4 separate regions of the Homo sapiens genome follow, and all the other regions are reported to be linked to region 4. The links are microRNA targets in miRTarBase. Many come from high-throughput screens and were not tested one by one. Region 4 holds a microRNA gene; each other region holds the end of a gene's coding sequence.

Region 1 (4,000 bases), not on the chromosome of region 4:
AGGGTGACAACCAAAGATTAACACCAACATGTATTTAATTGTATGATTTATAGTGTCCCTTTTGGCTTAACACTTTCAAACATTTTTCTTATATTTGGCTTTCCTAGTTCCCTATTATTTTTTTAAATCTGGAAGTTGTCATTTTTTAATTAATTTCTGTCGAACTGAAGTGATTAGAAATATCAACATCTCTTTCAGGTTAAAAATATTTTGTATCATGCAGTCAAAGAAATGGTGAGAGCCTTGAAGATACACGAGGATGAAGTAGAGGATATGGAAGAAAATTAAGTGTGATCCAGTTTGATATTTTTAGGTTGTTGAACTGGGATTACTTAACCTTGAATGATGATATGTATGCACACTGACTTTAAGCTTCATAAAACCATCAGTGCCAAGAAATTCTCTTTGTAGTAATTACTTGTTACTGACACCACAGCAGTATAGCATATGTCACAGCTCCTGTGATTCAATGTTATAAAACAAGCAGAATTTTAAAAGCAGCACTATATAGCTGTTTTGTATTATAGTGTATATGATGTTTGTGAAAATGCCAGATTTAAAATGATGTATTTATTTTTGGTAAAAAATAAAAAATTCTATGCTATATTGTTGATCAAGTGTAAATGTGACCTTGTACAGTTTACTAAAATTACTGATATTTTTCACTACATTGAGACAGTTACTGTGAGAATAGGACACAAACACCAGCTATTGCCTGCATCTGGGAAATTGCTGAATCGCACAGCAGTCATGTCATAATCAGAAAATTACTGCCAAATAATTGTAAAATTTGTAAAGTATAAAGTATATAAAGTAGATACTAAATACAGACACTTCAATATTTTGTTGAAGCTATTGACTGTACAATTAAACATTTTCAAAAGGTGTAATTTATTTAAAATTGTCTCATTTTGGTAAAATTTATGTGAACTTTTAAAGCTAAATATTAAACTTAATATGCTATGTAAATATATACATATATACATTTAATGATGTATTTTTTTAAAACATTGGCTTGCTTTTGTTAAAGTGCAAGTGTTACATATGGCTTTGTACATTAAAGTTGAAAGGGGTTTTACATTTTCCATTAAAAGGACTTTATCAAAAATTGACTTTTTCCAGAGTACTCCCTCTGTTGACAAGCATGACACTGGGGGCAGAGAAGAGCCCGAAGTCAGTCATCCTGGGTATAAATATGAGTTCTGCCACTTACTGTATGACCTTAGAAAGTTATTTTAATTAATTTGAAGTCTTGGTTTTAATAGCTGGCTGCTATTGTCGGTTGGTTAAGGCTGACATATTCCCAACCCTTTAAGTTACTGGAAAGATGTAGCTCTCCACTGACACCTGCAGGATATTGAGAGGATAGCCTTTCTTCTCAACTGAAAGCATTCAGCTTAAAAGAAAAAAGTGGGAGTCCAAGTTGTGACACCTTGCAAGTTGCTTAGTTTATACTGTTTTTCCTTATGTCACCATCGTTTAGCTCCATGTAATCTGTTACAACACCCTCCACTTCAGGCAAGGTTCAGCCAGGAATGTGAGCAATTACATTTCATGTGAATTACCTACATGTGGCATTTCACATTAATTACCTATACTTATCATGGGATGGATAATGACTACTTGGCTAGAAAGAAAAATTGGCCTGAGGAATATTTCAGATGATTTTGTGAACCTTCTTTGGTGAGCTTTTGACTTTTTTAAATACCATTTTTCCAAATGTGCCTCAGCTGATAAAGTGGCTTTTGTCTAATGCTTTCATATGTTCCATCTGATTTAATTTTGATGTAAAATTAAGTGAAAGCCAAGGTGTTAATTCTGGAGTAGAGTACCACCTGCTGGTCCCCTAAAGCCTGCCAGGATCCCAAAGTCTGTGGTGATTGTTTTTCCTCAAAACCTTTTGCTTCTCTTGCTCTTGCATGAGCCACCTTTTAACCATATTTACAACTTATTCTGAATAGCTGAAGCTAACGAAGATAAAGCCAGGTAATGTGGCTTGTTTCAGTGCAAACCCACCTTAATGACAGTATTCTATCCGTAGTCTGAAGAATATTGTATCCATAGTCTGAATTCCATGCTGCTGACCTAATTAATTCCTTGTAAATCTGGGGTGAAGAGAGAGGACCATAATGCTTACATCCTTAATGACATTTGTAAGCTTTTTGGAAGGCTGGGGAGTTGATTGATTGCTGATTACTCCCTAATCACTGGAGCAGTTCCTCTGGCCTTTTTCTCTCCATCCTTTTGGTTGGGTCTGATGCGCCTCAGGAGTATGTCTGAGTATGTCAGCTCCCTCCAGACGGTGGTATGGTGTTATCTTAAATGTGTACAATAATTTGAGAAACAACAAAGAGCCTTTATAAAGGGAAAGTCGTGGTGAATACTTTACTTTAGTTCTTTCCCATTCTAGTGTATAATGTTTTTTGAGACACTCTCGCTCTGTTGCCCAGGCTGCAGTGCAGTGGTGCAATCATAGCTCACTGTAGCCTTGAACTCCTGGGCTCAGGTGATCCTCCTGCCTCAACCTCCCGAGTAGCTGGGACTATAGGCACGCATCACTGTGCTCAGCTAATTTTTTTTTCTTTTGGAGACTGAGTTTCACTCTGTCACCCAGGCTGGAGTGCAATGGCGTGATCTTGGCTCACTGCAACTTCCGCCTCCCAGGTTCAAGTGATTCTCCTGCCTCAGACTCCGGAGTAGCTGGGACTACAGGTGCATGCCACCACACTTGGCTAATTTTTCTATTTTTCATAGAGATGATGGGGTTTCACTACGTTGGCGAGGCTGGTCTCGAACTCCTTACCTGATGATCTGCCAGTCTCAGCCTCTCAAAGTGCTGGGATTAGAGGCGTGATTTTTAAAATGTTATTTATTTATTTATTTTATTTATTTATTTATTTATTTATTTAGAAGAGATGAGGTCTCTCTCACTACGTTACCAAGGCTGGTCTCTCCTGAGCTCAAGTGATCTTCCCACCTCAGCCTCCCAAAGTGCTGGGATTACAAGTGTAAGCCACCACACCTGGCCCTAATTGATAATGTTTTTACTGGAATATGGATTTTTCATGAATAATCAATACGTGCATTCAAATTCATTTCTGCCATGCATCTGGGGACTGTAATACCCAGACGAATCAGTGTCTGGTTTTCTGTCACTTCCCTTCTTGGTAGATGGGTTATGGATTTAATAACATCTGGGTAAAATTAATAAGCTTCAGAAAAGTGCTGTCATACCTTTACTTTGCTCTGTGCATGTATACCATAGATAGATTGATACAACATGTTCTGTTTCTAGATGCCAGCCTATTAAAGATGCTCTCACAAATGAGATCAGCAGTCAGCCATGGGAGAGGAAAAAGTGATTTAGTTATTCTATATAATGGTTTTTTTGTTTTTTGTTTTTGTTTTTGTTTTTGATACGGAGTTTGCTAATTTGCTGTTGTCATCCAGGCTGGAGTGCAGTGGCACCATCTCGGCTCCCTGCAACCTCTGCCTCCCAGATTCAAGTGATTCTCCTGCCTCAGCCTCCCAAGTAGGTGAAGTTACAGGCCCACACCACCATGCCCAGCTAATTTTTGTATTTTTAGTGGGGATAGGGTTTCACCATGTTGGCCAAGGCTGGTCTTGAACTCCTGACCTCAGGTGATCCGCCCACCTTGGCCATCCAGAGTGCTGGGATTACAAGCGTGGGACACCACGCCCAGCTAGTTATCATTCTGTATTCAATACAGTATTCAGTATGAATTGGGATAACAAGTTGGCCAAGACACAAGGTTATGTATGCTGCCAGGCCTGTCACCAGGATGCAGACTCAGACCTTTCCAACTGCAAAAGTTATGACATGGCCTGGTTATGCAATTACTATGTAAACCTAGATAGATATGCTTTGAAACCGTATAAAAATATAGCAAATGTGAGTAGTATGTGAAGTACTTTGGCTCCCACAGTAATCAGCCTGGTTCTTTTAATGACAATTAATTGACTTTTAAGTGACAATGAA
Region 2 (4,000 bases), not on the chromosome of region 4:
TGCACAGTTGATAAGTGGCAGAGCCAGGATAGGAGGAAATTGATCTCTTTCCACTTGCCAACACCCTGTGCCATCCCTGCATAAGATCACAGGCTTCCTGAGACCCTGGAAAATGCTCCTGTCATTTCCTAAGCAGACCCTGCTCCAGGATCTCTTTTGAAATCCCCCCCTCTTTCTCACTTCCATTTTTCTTGCTTTTCAGGAGAGAAGTATGAGCTCCATGCAGGGACTGAGTCCACCCCAAGTGTCGTCGTGCACGTGTGCGACAGTGACATAGAGGAAGAAGAGGACCCAAAGACTTCCCCAAAGCCAAAAATCATCCAAACTCGGCGTCCTGGCCTGCCACCCTCCGTGTCCAACTGAGCTGCCTGCTCCTTCTCGATAATAGCCGTCTCCTCTTTATCATGCTTTTTCCCCCTGTTGTTTGTCAAAAAAAATTGCCTTTAAATTCCTGGGTGTTTGGTTGTTTGAGATTCCTTCCTTGTTATCAAGCCTCTCGGACAAAAGGGCTAGGAAAAGGTGATATGTCTCCTGATCATATCATACCCATTAAGTATAACCCATTATTTAGAAGGTTCTAGGGAAAAAAGTAGTATTTTCTTATTAAACAATCAGCACAGCCTATATCTTTGTTCTCTCATGTTGATCCAAGCCAGAGACATCAGTAACAAATAGCACCTGTGTTGTTTGTGAGCTGTTTCAGTCCCAGTCCTGATGTGTGTGCGTTGTTCTCTCCTGGCCACTTAAATAGGACCATATGTAAACTTGACTTTGACTGCATGAGATATCCCTATCTGGTCTCACTCAGTCCTCTGCATCCCAACATTCCCAGGACATGCATGATCACCAGCATTTATTTTCATTATTTGAGGATATCTTATAACTCACAGATTGTCAGCATCCAGCCATGTCCTATCTAGATTAGGAAAATGATCAGAATATTCCAGCTCAACAAGTCTGGGTATATTCACTATTGTGAGTCAATACACCATAGCTCTGTTGAAATTCCTGGAGGCAAAATTGACCTTGGCCCCAAAGATATTCCTCAATAGATTTCAAACACCACTCCCCTGTAGAACTCTCCCAGCCTCGTTGGGGAGGCTTGTCCAGGGTGATAGAGACTGATTTCAGACAAACCTATTTATTACAAAAGTTTCATGGTGTCTGAATGATTGTTTTCTCTCTTTGTATATTTGTACAAATGTTTCAGCTGTGCTTTTAAAAAATCTGGATGTTTTTTATTTAGTGATTGTTCGACAATTAGCTGCTTCAAAACATAATGTGCATTGCTTATGAATGCCTTCATATACTAATACAGATACTCTGATAATATTACACTCTAATAAGGATAATGCTGAATTTTGAAAGGACACAAAACATCTAATGCCAATATATACATGATTAGCCAACATCTTTGCTATCAAGACCACTTGTTTTTAAATAAAGATGCAAGTGTCAGTTGTAGATTATTGGGATGAAGCTAAATCCCCAGAATGCAGCAGCAGCTGAGCATGTTAAAATGGGGAAGGATGATAGCTACATGTATGCCGGTCCTACTCACGCGACACCCGTGTGCTCAAAAAAGTTATTTGTTTTTGTTACGTGTGATTTTTCTATTTCTCTAGCCCAAAGTGCATTACAGAAGATACACCTATAGAACCATTACCTTCTGCTATGTGTGCCAGGCCTCATCTACTCCTGTACATTAATGAATTACTTTAGATGCAAACGCAGATTACAATGGAGTGGGGAAGTACTTTCATTACCCAAGCCTCAGAAAAACACACAAGAACAATAACACAGCAAACAGATTGAGGGATTGTTGTGGTTTTTGACTAAGGTGTATGTTAGTTTCATCAGAAACTTAAAACATAGACTGATCACTCAGAAATTAAAGTCCGTTTTACTGTGAATATAGCAATATAGTACTGGACACAGTACTGGTGAAACTGAGGAGAGCATTGCTTGTAAAATCCTGAGTTTCCATAAGGAAAATGAAAACTCCTTTTAAAAATAAAATCTGAGGAGTGTACAATAAGCATATGCTTTGACTTTCCTTTGCTGTGGAGGTTTTTGGTTTTTCATTGATGATAAACGACTACAGACTTAGTAGTGGAGAAATGGTGTCCTCTAGTGGAAGAAATAGTAGGCTCCGCTATTCAGATGCAGAGCACTGCAGCATCCAGCCTTTCAAAGCTGACTCTTCTCAATCATCTGTGGGTCATTTGACTTGATTTTTTAAGCTACCCTGAATTTCCAGAATGCAGGTTCTAAAGAAATCTAGATGAGAGAAAGTATTTGAAAATGATTTTTAAATGTTTTTTAAAAGACACATCTGACATTTTTAACAACTTAGTAAAAGTTGAAATGACCATTCTGTGTAGTCATAAAAGAAACACAATGAAGTGTATGGCCTCTGGAGTTAGTCTTAGTAAAACTTATTGCTCTGTGTCAATGTTAACCTGTCTCAGATCAAGTAATTCTTTCACTAGGTTGGGTTTGGGGAGGGGGGAAAAGAGGGGCTTTTCCTAGGAGAACGATAAGAAATGGAAAGACTCCTTGAAGTGTTGCAAGGGAACCTCCTAGCACTGTGAAAGTCAGAATCGCCTCAGCATTTCCATGACGCACATTATGCAAATCTCTTTAGCACTATTTTAAGTTTGAAAACTTTAACAATGAAGGGGAAGGGGAAGATTTCCACCAACTGAATCATTTGTGCACGTGTATAGCTCAAAGAGCTTAGACTTCAAATATATCTGGTGAATGACTCTTTGTCCATGTGGTTTAATTTCTGTGTTGTCGACCTGAGTTGAATATTCTTGAGGGGTAATTGTGGGGGACTGCATTTCAACCTAGAGTTTTTCTAAGAAGTCCCCAACGTATGGGGTTAACCCATATACCTAGGCTCTTCCTGAAAGTGGGGGAAGCTGGTTGGCAGCCCTCTCTTGGGGGAAGGGGAATTTGAGCAGGGCCTGGAGGGCAGGGTTGGCCTCTGATAAGAGGAACTGGGAGAGCTCCCTGTTTTATTGCCATGTTTCAACATCTTGGTCCTAAAAGCCATTTCAAGTGTACTAAAAACCTCTTTTAATGTCTTCCCACTCTATTCTCTTGTTAAAAGCACTATAAGAGACCTGAGTTAGCAAAAAAATTATTATTCAGGAGAAAAGCACTATCATAATCTAAATGATTAATACATTAAATGCCATTAAAATGAAGAGCTTCTGTTCATCAGATGGGTATTAGGAGAATGAAAAGGGACAGCATCAGACTGGAAAAGGATATTTGAGACACATGTAGTTGTAAAATAAATTATATCCAAAATGTAAAAAGAAAACCCTACAAATAAGGAAAACAGACAATCCATTTCTTTGATCATCAAAAAATTTCAAAGGCACTTCATACAGGCAATTCACATACACACAGACATACACAAAATACCCAGATGACCCATTAGCATTCAAAAGATGCTCAATTTTATTGCTTATCTGACAAAAGCAAATGATAATCTCAGAGCTACTACACAGATCTATCAGAATGACTAAAATTAAGTCTGGAGAAATAAAAAGTTCTGGTAAGGATATGAAGGAAGGGGAACTGTCATGCACCACTGGTGGAGTGTCAACTGGTGCTCACTTCACAGCACTGTTTGGTAATATCTGCTAAAGCTAACATGCCTCTGGGAGCAATTCACTCCAGGGCATGCACCTAGCAGATACAAGTGCACACATCTATCAAAATACTTGTACAATAATGTCCCTAGCAAAGTTGTTCATCATAGCCATTAACTGGATACAGCCCAAATGTCCTTCAACTATAGAATAAACTGTGCTATCCTCACACAAAGGAATGTCACAAAGCAATAAGACACATAAACTAGTGGTACATATATGAACATGAATAGATCGCAAAATCATATTTTGAGCAAAAAAGAAAAACTAGACATGAAAAAAATACATAGTATATGACTCCTTTTAGCAAGCTAAGAAAGTCAAAACTGGCC
Region 3 (4,000 bases), not on the chromosome of region 4:
ATTAATACGAATCCTGACTTTGGTTCAAGGGAAAAAATTACTTATCTTGATGTTCTTTCTCTTCTACATGTCAAAAATACCATCTGTAGCTCCTGATTTATTTATGGGTGTTCAGAATTCATCACTGTGTTTCCTCTGGGAAGTATATTACTTCTCCTGAGGAAAATGTTTAAGTGTGAGATTGGGGACATGGCTCATACGGTGTTAGAGCCTGTCAAGGAATATAGCAATCAGGCTTTGTCACAAATTGCTGATGACCCCTTTGTCACCTTGTGTATTTCTGTACTTTATTTAAGGTGAAGCTGAGGACATACTGGAAACAGAAAAGAGTAAATTGCAGCTGCCAAGAGGAATGATCACTTTTGAAAGCATTGAAAAAGCCAGAAAGGAACAGAGTAGATTCTTCATAGACAAATGAAATCATGCTTACCAATCAAATCTCAAAGCACAGAATTATTGACTTGAATCATGGTTTTTACAGTTTTTTAAATGCTCAAGATTTTGATATTATAGATTTTATTTTAAAATATTAAAATGCAAGATAGTTTTGAGCTATTTTAAAATAAAATTTATAACATTCAACACAAAATCATGGAGGTGCTCTAAATAACTTTTAGATTTCCTCTCTCTGTGTGCATTACCAATATCTAAGTGTAAAATTAATAAATTGTTTTGAATTCCTGGAAGCAAATGCCCAGCTGCTCTCATTTCTCTGTCACACATACTTTCCATACCACATTCCATTTCCACAGATGCTTCTGTATTTTGGATTTGTCAATTGTGTCCTGCCCCTACATGACAGAAAACAGTATTGTTTGACTAACATATATACTGCATTTTCTATGACTGGCACTGTTCTGAGTGTTTTGTACAAATTCTTGTAATCATCCCAATAATTTTATGAAGCAGGAATCATTTTATAAATGTGGAAACTGAAGCACAGATAAGCAGCTTGAACAAAGGCAGAAGCACGCAAGCCAAATCCAAGAAGTTGCTGCAGGTCATCCAATTTGGCTGGGCCAAAGCCATACTTGGCCAGGGCTTGGATTTGAACAAGTGTGGCTCCAGTGGCTGTGCTCTAAAAGGCCTTGACAAGGCCTTAACTGATGCTTAACCTGCAAAGAAAAGCTATAAAAGGGAAAAGGTAACAACATTCAAATAATGACTCAGGGCATAGTTGCTAGAGAGGTGGAAACAAGAGAGAGGTAGATTTGGATGACTGCCTTTTTATTTAGACTCACTGGGAAAACTCCTCATAAAATACTCCTATATATAAGTATTTCTTCAGATGCGAACCCTACATATAATATGCTCATTCCAAAGAGATTTATTGATACTACTTTGTGCCAGGCACTGTTGTAGACACTAGAGCTACATCGGTGAATAAGTAGACAATGTCCTATATCCTGGGCAGAGGAATATATTCTAGTGAGGGGTGGGATAATTGGGGCGGGCAACAAATTAACATCAAGATAAATAAGATCATTTCTAATCCTGGCAAATGCTTCAGTGGAAATGAAACAGAGTGATAAGAGAATGATTGGGTTAATGAGGTGGTGCTACTTTAGATCGGTACTGCAGACACTGCCTCTTTGCAGAGGTGACATTTGAACTGAGACATGGCATGGCCAAATAATAGAAAGAAGCCCAGGAAGAATAATAGGAGATTAAATATTAAGGTAGGAACAAGCATGAATATGATGTGGTCCCTACCTTCAAGGAGCTGACAACGTATCAACATGTGTTTTGTTACAATTTTAGCTTTAGAGAAACTTGAGCCAAGTCTTGAAGGATGCATAGAAGTTCTCCATGAAGGTAAACATTGAAGAGGAAGGGTGCCCCAAGCAGGAGAAGCAGCTTGAACAAAGGCAGGACCGTGCAAGCCAAATCCAAGGAATTGCTGCAGGTCATTCAATTTGGCTGCAGCAAGGGGTTCCTCATGTGGGAGACTTTTTCAGAAATGATCCTGGTGGAAGTACAATTCAATTCCTGAAGAGCCTTGGATGTAACAGCAAGCAGTTTGGACTCTTTCCTGAGGGTGATAGCAGTGAAAGAATGCAAAACGGGATTTTTACCCAAATTTGTAGATTAGAGGGGAAAGATCCCAGATCCCAAGTAATGAGGAGCTGCAATGATCCATCTGAGTGCTGACCAGTGGCCTGAATTAAGGCTACAGCCTTGGGAATGGACTCAAGATTATGAAAATAGAGAATAGCAGTACCAGGAAACCAGTTTGAGGTCACAGAGTGGGAGTTGTTTTCCCTGCATTTTTAATCTGTGTGGATTATCTAAGGCCCCTAGAGAACATGGGAAAGAAGAAGTACTGGGAGGAACACTGGTGGACTCATGAATGCCCAAGACCTAGTGCTGGTTGTAGGTCACACCAGAATCTGGAATTGTATTTCTTTCCCCACAATTCAATCATGCTATTCAAATGTTCCTGATATAGTCTAGCCAGAGCTCACCAAGAGTAGGTTTGATGCCTCTGCAAAGGCTGATCGGCTCAAGACCTTATCTGGGATTTTCATTGCTGGCAACATAGCCAGGCCCTGGGCCCCCTTAAGAACACCAGGCTGTTCAATTGTATTGGCTTCTTGGCTTCTTCCTCTGGCACTGACACTGAGTTTATTAATAATTCTACCTCAGTAGAGGCCCTGCTGAAAAACATACGCACACACTTACACTCATACTGTTGTTTGCTCCCAATTGTATAGTGAGGCAAAAATCAAAGTGGAGCTATTAAAAATGACCATGCAGCACAAGTATGTTGTAACATTTTTCAGTGTTATAACTGCTGATTATCCAAAGCTTTTCCTCTCATTATTACATTGTCCTTTTGTTGAAAGGAAAAACATTTCTGCTGTGATGCTTCTGAGCTATTTCTTCATTTATATTAATTAAATATTTATTTATGCTTATGATTAATCCCTAATTACCAACTAGACATCTGATGTTTCCAAATACTGAAACTTATATGGTCTTCTATAAGAAACTAGCTTATAATCATCACAAACTTTTGTGATATTGCAAGAAGAATGAGGAAATAAATATGAGAAAGTATATTAGGAGAAGGATAAGAAACAGGTTTCATTATGAACAAAGATTTAGAGATTAAAATAATGATAACCTCACTCAATCTCTTTGTCAATTATTAGGAATAAAGTTGGAGGAAAACTTATCTACACTCCATGTGGTTCTGTTCTTCCCAAGACATTCTTGGCTCAGCCAAAGCAATGCAGAGACTGCTAAGTATATGTGGAGTCTGTCATAGTTAAGGGATATAAATATGGATCCAGAGATTCTCTGCAACAGAAAGACTGTTCTTGACAATCACTGTATAATAGTAAAAATGCAGTTTATAACATTGCGTTACCTAAGTGTTTTGAATGTTTCTTATTCACATTTACATGAGAGAATTGTTCTCCCAGTTAAACAAAAATAACATATCAGGGTCTGAAATTTACAAATAAATCAAGTTTATATGGTGTTCAACCAATCTGAATTTGTGTTTATGGGTAATGTTGAAGGTTCCTTTATGGTGTGGTACTCATTGCACTTTGGAAAGGCTGTGAGAAAGTTCCCATAAGCCGAAGTTGTTTTAATGACAAATAGTGAAGTTATGATCAAGGATTTTAAAGAAGGGAAGACACTTAGAAATAGTCTAGTCTAAGCCCTCACCTTACACTTGAAAAAATTGAGGCCCTTTGTGATTGACCTAAAGTTTTATATCTAGTAATGGTAGTTACACTAAAACCTTTGTATTTGGTATCCCTGGCAGGATTCTTTTCAATACAACATGCTGCCTGATCAAGAAAAAATAGTGTCAAAGTCAAAATCAAATATAATTAAAAAAATTATCACACACATTCAGTCTCAGAGCCATATGAAGTGTCCTAGGGTGGGGTTAGAAGGGCATTGGTTAGAAGAGAAGTGAGAAGGAATAGACACAGATTGCAAAAATAATCTATGACCAATGTAACCTAAATATAAGCCATCTGAA
Region 4 (4,317 bases):
TGTCCAACCAGTCCCAATGAGATGAACCAGGTACCTCAGTTGGAAATGCAGAAATCACCCGTCTTCTGCATTGATCACACTGGGAGCTGCAGACTGGAGCTGTTCCTATTCAGCCAAAAAGTAGTATAATATTCTTTGAAGATAGACTGTGATGAATTAAATATGAACTTTGTAAACCCTAGAGCAACCACTATATTTTTTAAAGTGACCTAACTAATACGCCAAGAGTAGAGAAAATATAACTGAATGCTAAAAATACTAAATCCACCATCAGGCAGAAAAGAGGAAAATTTGGAATAAGAAAAGGATGAAACATAGAAAACAATCAGAAAGCCAGTAGATTTAAATGCATGTATGTAAATAATTGTATTAATATAAATGATATAAATGCTTCTATTAAGACAGAGATTGTCAATTTATATAAAAATAAGAAACAACTATATACTTTCTAAAACAAAGCCATTTTAAATATGAAGACCTACGTGAAAGTTGGGTAAAAGTAAAAGGATGGAAAATATATTAATGCAAAGAATCTTAGAACTAAAAATCTTACAGCTATTACTATTTAATAACACACACACACACACACACACACACACAGAGCGAGTGAGCAGGCACTCAAATAAATGAACTATAAAGAACCATGGAGCTAAGAGAAATAAAATAGCATTTCCTGTCTTCCAGCCCATTATCTGTCTTGTGTGTATCTTGTATTAATTTCTATGGGTTCTTCCTGCTCCATAGCCTGAAGAAGAAATGAAATTTCTACTCTCTCCAACCTGTTACCCTCTGACTCTTCTCCACTTCTTTGCATCCAGGTTGTTGTATTCTGTGGTTTTTCTGATGGACTTTAGGTGTGTGCAGCACAGCTGGAGTTTAGGACAACAGAAAGCTTTGGTGAGTGGTTGGTCCTTTCTACTTAACCAGTAATTTTATGTTTTTTTTTTTTTTTTTTTTTCTATTACATTTTGTTTTTGTTTTGAGACAGGGTCTCACTCTGTAACCCAGGCTTGAGTATAGTGGCCTGATCTCCTCTCACTGAAACCTGACTCCCAGGGTCAAGGTGTACTCCTGCCTCAGCTCCTGGGTGGCTGGGATTATAACAAAATAAAACAAAAATCTGCATGTTAAAATCTCACTCAGGGCAGGATGAAAGGGGAGCACTGGGGGCTAGGATTTGCATAATTCCTTGGCATAAATCTTGGTGGCCATGCTAATGTATACACCTATATAGGGACTTGAATAAAAATGGCATGAATAGGGAGCATTTGGTCTGGGATGCCACATTCAGCCATTCAGTGTACAGTGCCTTTCACAAGGAGGTGTCATTTATGTGAACTAAAATATAAATGTCACCTTTTTGAGAGGAGTAATGTACAGCATGCACTGCATATGTGGTGTCCCTAGGGATGGGGCTGTAGCTGCGAGCATGGTGATGCCTGTTTTGGATCCTGTGCACCCACTCCTCAGTGCTGGGCTACTTCAAGGAACTTTTTGTGCCTTCTAGACGACTAGACATAGGAACTGTGGACTCCTGAGAAAACGCATGCACTCAAGTTCTTTAAGAATTTAACTATTTTTGCCAAATGAGGCTTGGCTCAAATAAGAAATACATTGTATAGAGGCCACAGCCATTCTTCGTCAGCTGGAAGGTTGTACTCCAGATTCCTAAATTCTCTAAACTTTTCTCTCTTGTCAACTAGTCATCATTTGCAAGGCTTCTCCTTTAGAGCTCCCAAAAGACTCTCCTGCCTCTCAGGTCCCTTCATTGTTGATCCACAGTGTCCATTTGTCTCTCAAAGACTAAAATGTTTTTCATTGACTTTTAAATTACCTTTCAAAGCTATATGTCACCAGTTTACAATGGGTTAAGCATAGTCCATCCAAGAATATTTCATTCTTTTTCATTATCTTTTTCCCCATTTTTTAAGAATACACTTGAAGAATGAAAGGGTGTGACAGAACTGATACTCAGGAGATGTCTCCCAGGCTTCTCTCTCCATTTTCTTCTGGTGACACTTCTTAACTTTTAACCCAATGGAGAGAGAGAGAGAGGGAAATAAATACACACACACACACACACACACACAGAGAGAGAGAGAGAAAAGGAGGGAGAGGGAGAGAGAGAGACAAGCGCCAGACTGTGTGATGCCTTCTGCAGCATGAAACCAGTATGCATGTTTGGGAAGTAGGTTATAAATAAGCTACTTATATTGTGGAAATGTGTAAAAAATGTTTTAGAAATAGTAAGTGATTAATACAATTTTGATTCCAACTGAAATAGAGGCTACAGCATATACACTGAAAGGGAAAAACTGTTAAAAAATTACTATATGGTTACAGGGAGGATTTTAGTTTATGTTTTTTTTTTTAGATTCAGAATGGATGAATATGTGTAAGACCATTAGTAACTGAAAGTAAAAAAAAAAATCTGTTGATGTATCTTTTCCATAATGAAACAATTGCACTAATAGAATACAAAGAATCTTTGTATGTGTGTGTGGGTCGGGGGGAACATTCTGAACAGTAAAAAAATTCTGTCAGTTTGAAATACTGTATGTACGTAGAATTTTCCAAAGTGATAACTCCTCTTAGTATATAGTTTCTAAAACTGTATTATAGTGAAAGCATGTTACTTATATAACTTTAAGTGATATCCTAAAATGAAAGTAAGAAAATTTAGTTGTTATCGTATCTCTTTTATGATTTACTCAAAAAGAATAGTATATTCACTGGTATTTATGTTTTCTTTCAGAGAAATTCTGTTTTGTATTATTCATCCATGTTTCTACCAATTTATTAAGGTTTAACTGACATAAAAGTTGTATATATTTAAGGTATACACCATGATGTTTTGATATATGTGTACATTAGGAAATGATTAAATCAAGCTAATTGAAAAATAAAATAATATGAACATAAAATATTTAGGTGAAATTCTAAGAAAAAAATTACAAGATCTCTGTGGTAGGCAGAATAACAGCCCCCTCAAAACAATGTTTACAGAGTAACCCCTGAACTTGTAAACAACACATTTTATTGCAGAAGAAAATTTGTGCATGTGATTAAATTAAATATTTTGAGATTGGGATTATCCTAGATTATCTAGGTGAGCCCAACATTATCACAAGGGTCCTTATAAGTAGGAGAAAGGCGGTTAGAATAAGAGAAACATTGGAAAAGGCTATAGTATTGACTAGAGGTGGAGGTAAAGTCCATGAGCCAAAGAACGGAGAAAGCAAGTAGCATCTTCTTCTAAAGACAATCAAGTAGATTCTCCTCTAGAGCCAACAGAAGGAACAAAGCCCTGCCAATGCCTTCATTTTAGCCAAGAGAAACCTAATTTAGATTTCTGACCTTTAGACCCTAATATAATAAATTTGTGTTGTTGGAAACAACTAAATTTGTGGCAATTTGATTCAGTATCAATAGAAAACCAAACACATCTGTATGCTAAAAGTGTAAATACACTAGGAAATCAAATAATTCCTAATTAAGTGGAGAGGAGTATCATATTTATGGATCGAAGGATTCAAATCTATAGACTTATAGAGTTCTATTGATCTCTAGAGGTAATGCAATTCCAACCAATGTCGCAGAAAAATATTTGTAGACATTACCATGATGATTCTAAAACTGATATAAAAGGCAAATAAACTAGAATATCCAAAAGAGTCTGAAAGAGAATCACAAAGTTGGAGAATTTACACTTGTAATTTCCAGATTTACTGTCTAACTAGATTAGCCAATATAGTGTGGTACTGAAGAAAGGATGGACAAATAGAAGGACCAGAAATATACATATATGTCACCAATTCATTTAGACTAAGCTGTAAAGTCAGTCTAATGAAGAAATGATAGTATTTAAACAAGATACTGGAAAATGTGATATATATATATATATATATGAAAAATATGAACCTCGATCCATATTTCAAACCATATACGGAAAATAACACAATTTTAGGCCAAAATGTCCAAGTATAAAATTTTATGAATAAAAGGCAGAATATATATATATTTTTTTATTTATATAGATATTTATTTTTAATCTTCTTTACCTTTCAGTAACTTTTTTCCCCCGATAATATACCATAGGCATCCTATCAATTATTATATATGATATCAAAATATAAAAGTAAAATTAAAAATAAGTTGATAAAATAGACTTTGAAAAAATTAAAATTTGTCTTCAAATCAGACCACTGAGATAATAAAAAGGCAATCTACAGAATACTAAAAATATATGTAATTTAATAATGTGATAAATAACATATATCCAGCATAAATAACTACATATAATTTAACACTCCTGTG

What was found. The annotated mature microRNA hsa-miR-513b-3p reads AAAUGUCACCUUUUUGAGAGGA and lies in region 4 at 1,348-1,369, shown strand. An mRNA with a match to its seed (bases 2 to 7 or 8) in the 3' UTR can be bound and repressed. Matches are read on the target gene's strand: a 7mer-m8 pairs with bases 2 to 8, a 7mer-A1 pairs with bases 2 to 7 and ends in A, and an 8mer does both.
Region 1: miRTarBase lists JMJD1C as a target of hsa-miR-513b-3p. The part of its 3' UTR that is shown has no 7-base or 8-base seed match.
Region 2: miRTarBase lists RCAN2 as a target of hsa-miR-513b-3p. Seed matches in the 3' UTR shown: 7mer-m8 at 2,337-2,343.
Region 3: the mRNA of PLGRKT is a reported target of hsa-miR-513b-3p. The part of its 3' UTR that is shown has no 7-base or 8-base seed match.

What each region holds. Positions count from the first base shown.
Region 1 is chr10:63,164,333-63,168,332 of GRCh38, reverse strand. JMJD1C (jumonji domain containing 1C) reads left to right here. Exons shown (of 26, transcript NM_032776.3): 26 at 199-1,108. The coding sequence ends at 288. Among named protein-coding and RNA genes, the nearest start is that of NRBF2, 33 kb to the right of the region's middle.
Region 2 is chr6:46,219,504-46,223,503 of GRCh38, reverse strand. It overlaps RCAN2 (regulator of calcineurin 2), which reads left to right. Exons shown (of 5, transcript NM_001251974.2): 5 at 203-2,768. The coding sequence ends at 363. All of the region lies in intron 1 of LOC105375079 (a long non-coding RNA gene), which reads right to left. Among named protein-coding and RNA genes, the nearest start is that of ENPP5, 51 kb to the right of the region's middle.
Region 3 is chr9:5,354,657-5,358,656 of GRCh38, reverse strand. It overlaps PLGRKT (plasminogen receptor with a C-terminal lysine), which reads left to right. Exons shown (of 6, transcript NM_018465.4): 6 at 297-686. The coding sequence ends at 418. Among named protein-coding and RNA genes, the nearest start is that of RLN1, 17 kb to the right of the region's middle.
Region 4 is chrX:147,196,109-147,200,425 of GRCh38, reverse strand. MIR513B (microRNA 513b) reads left to right here and starts at 1,299; the gene lies at 1,299-1,382. The region is part of intron 1 of LOC105373347 (periphilin-1); the gene reads right to left.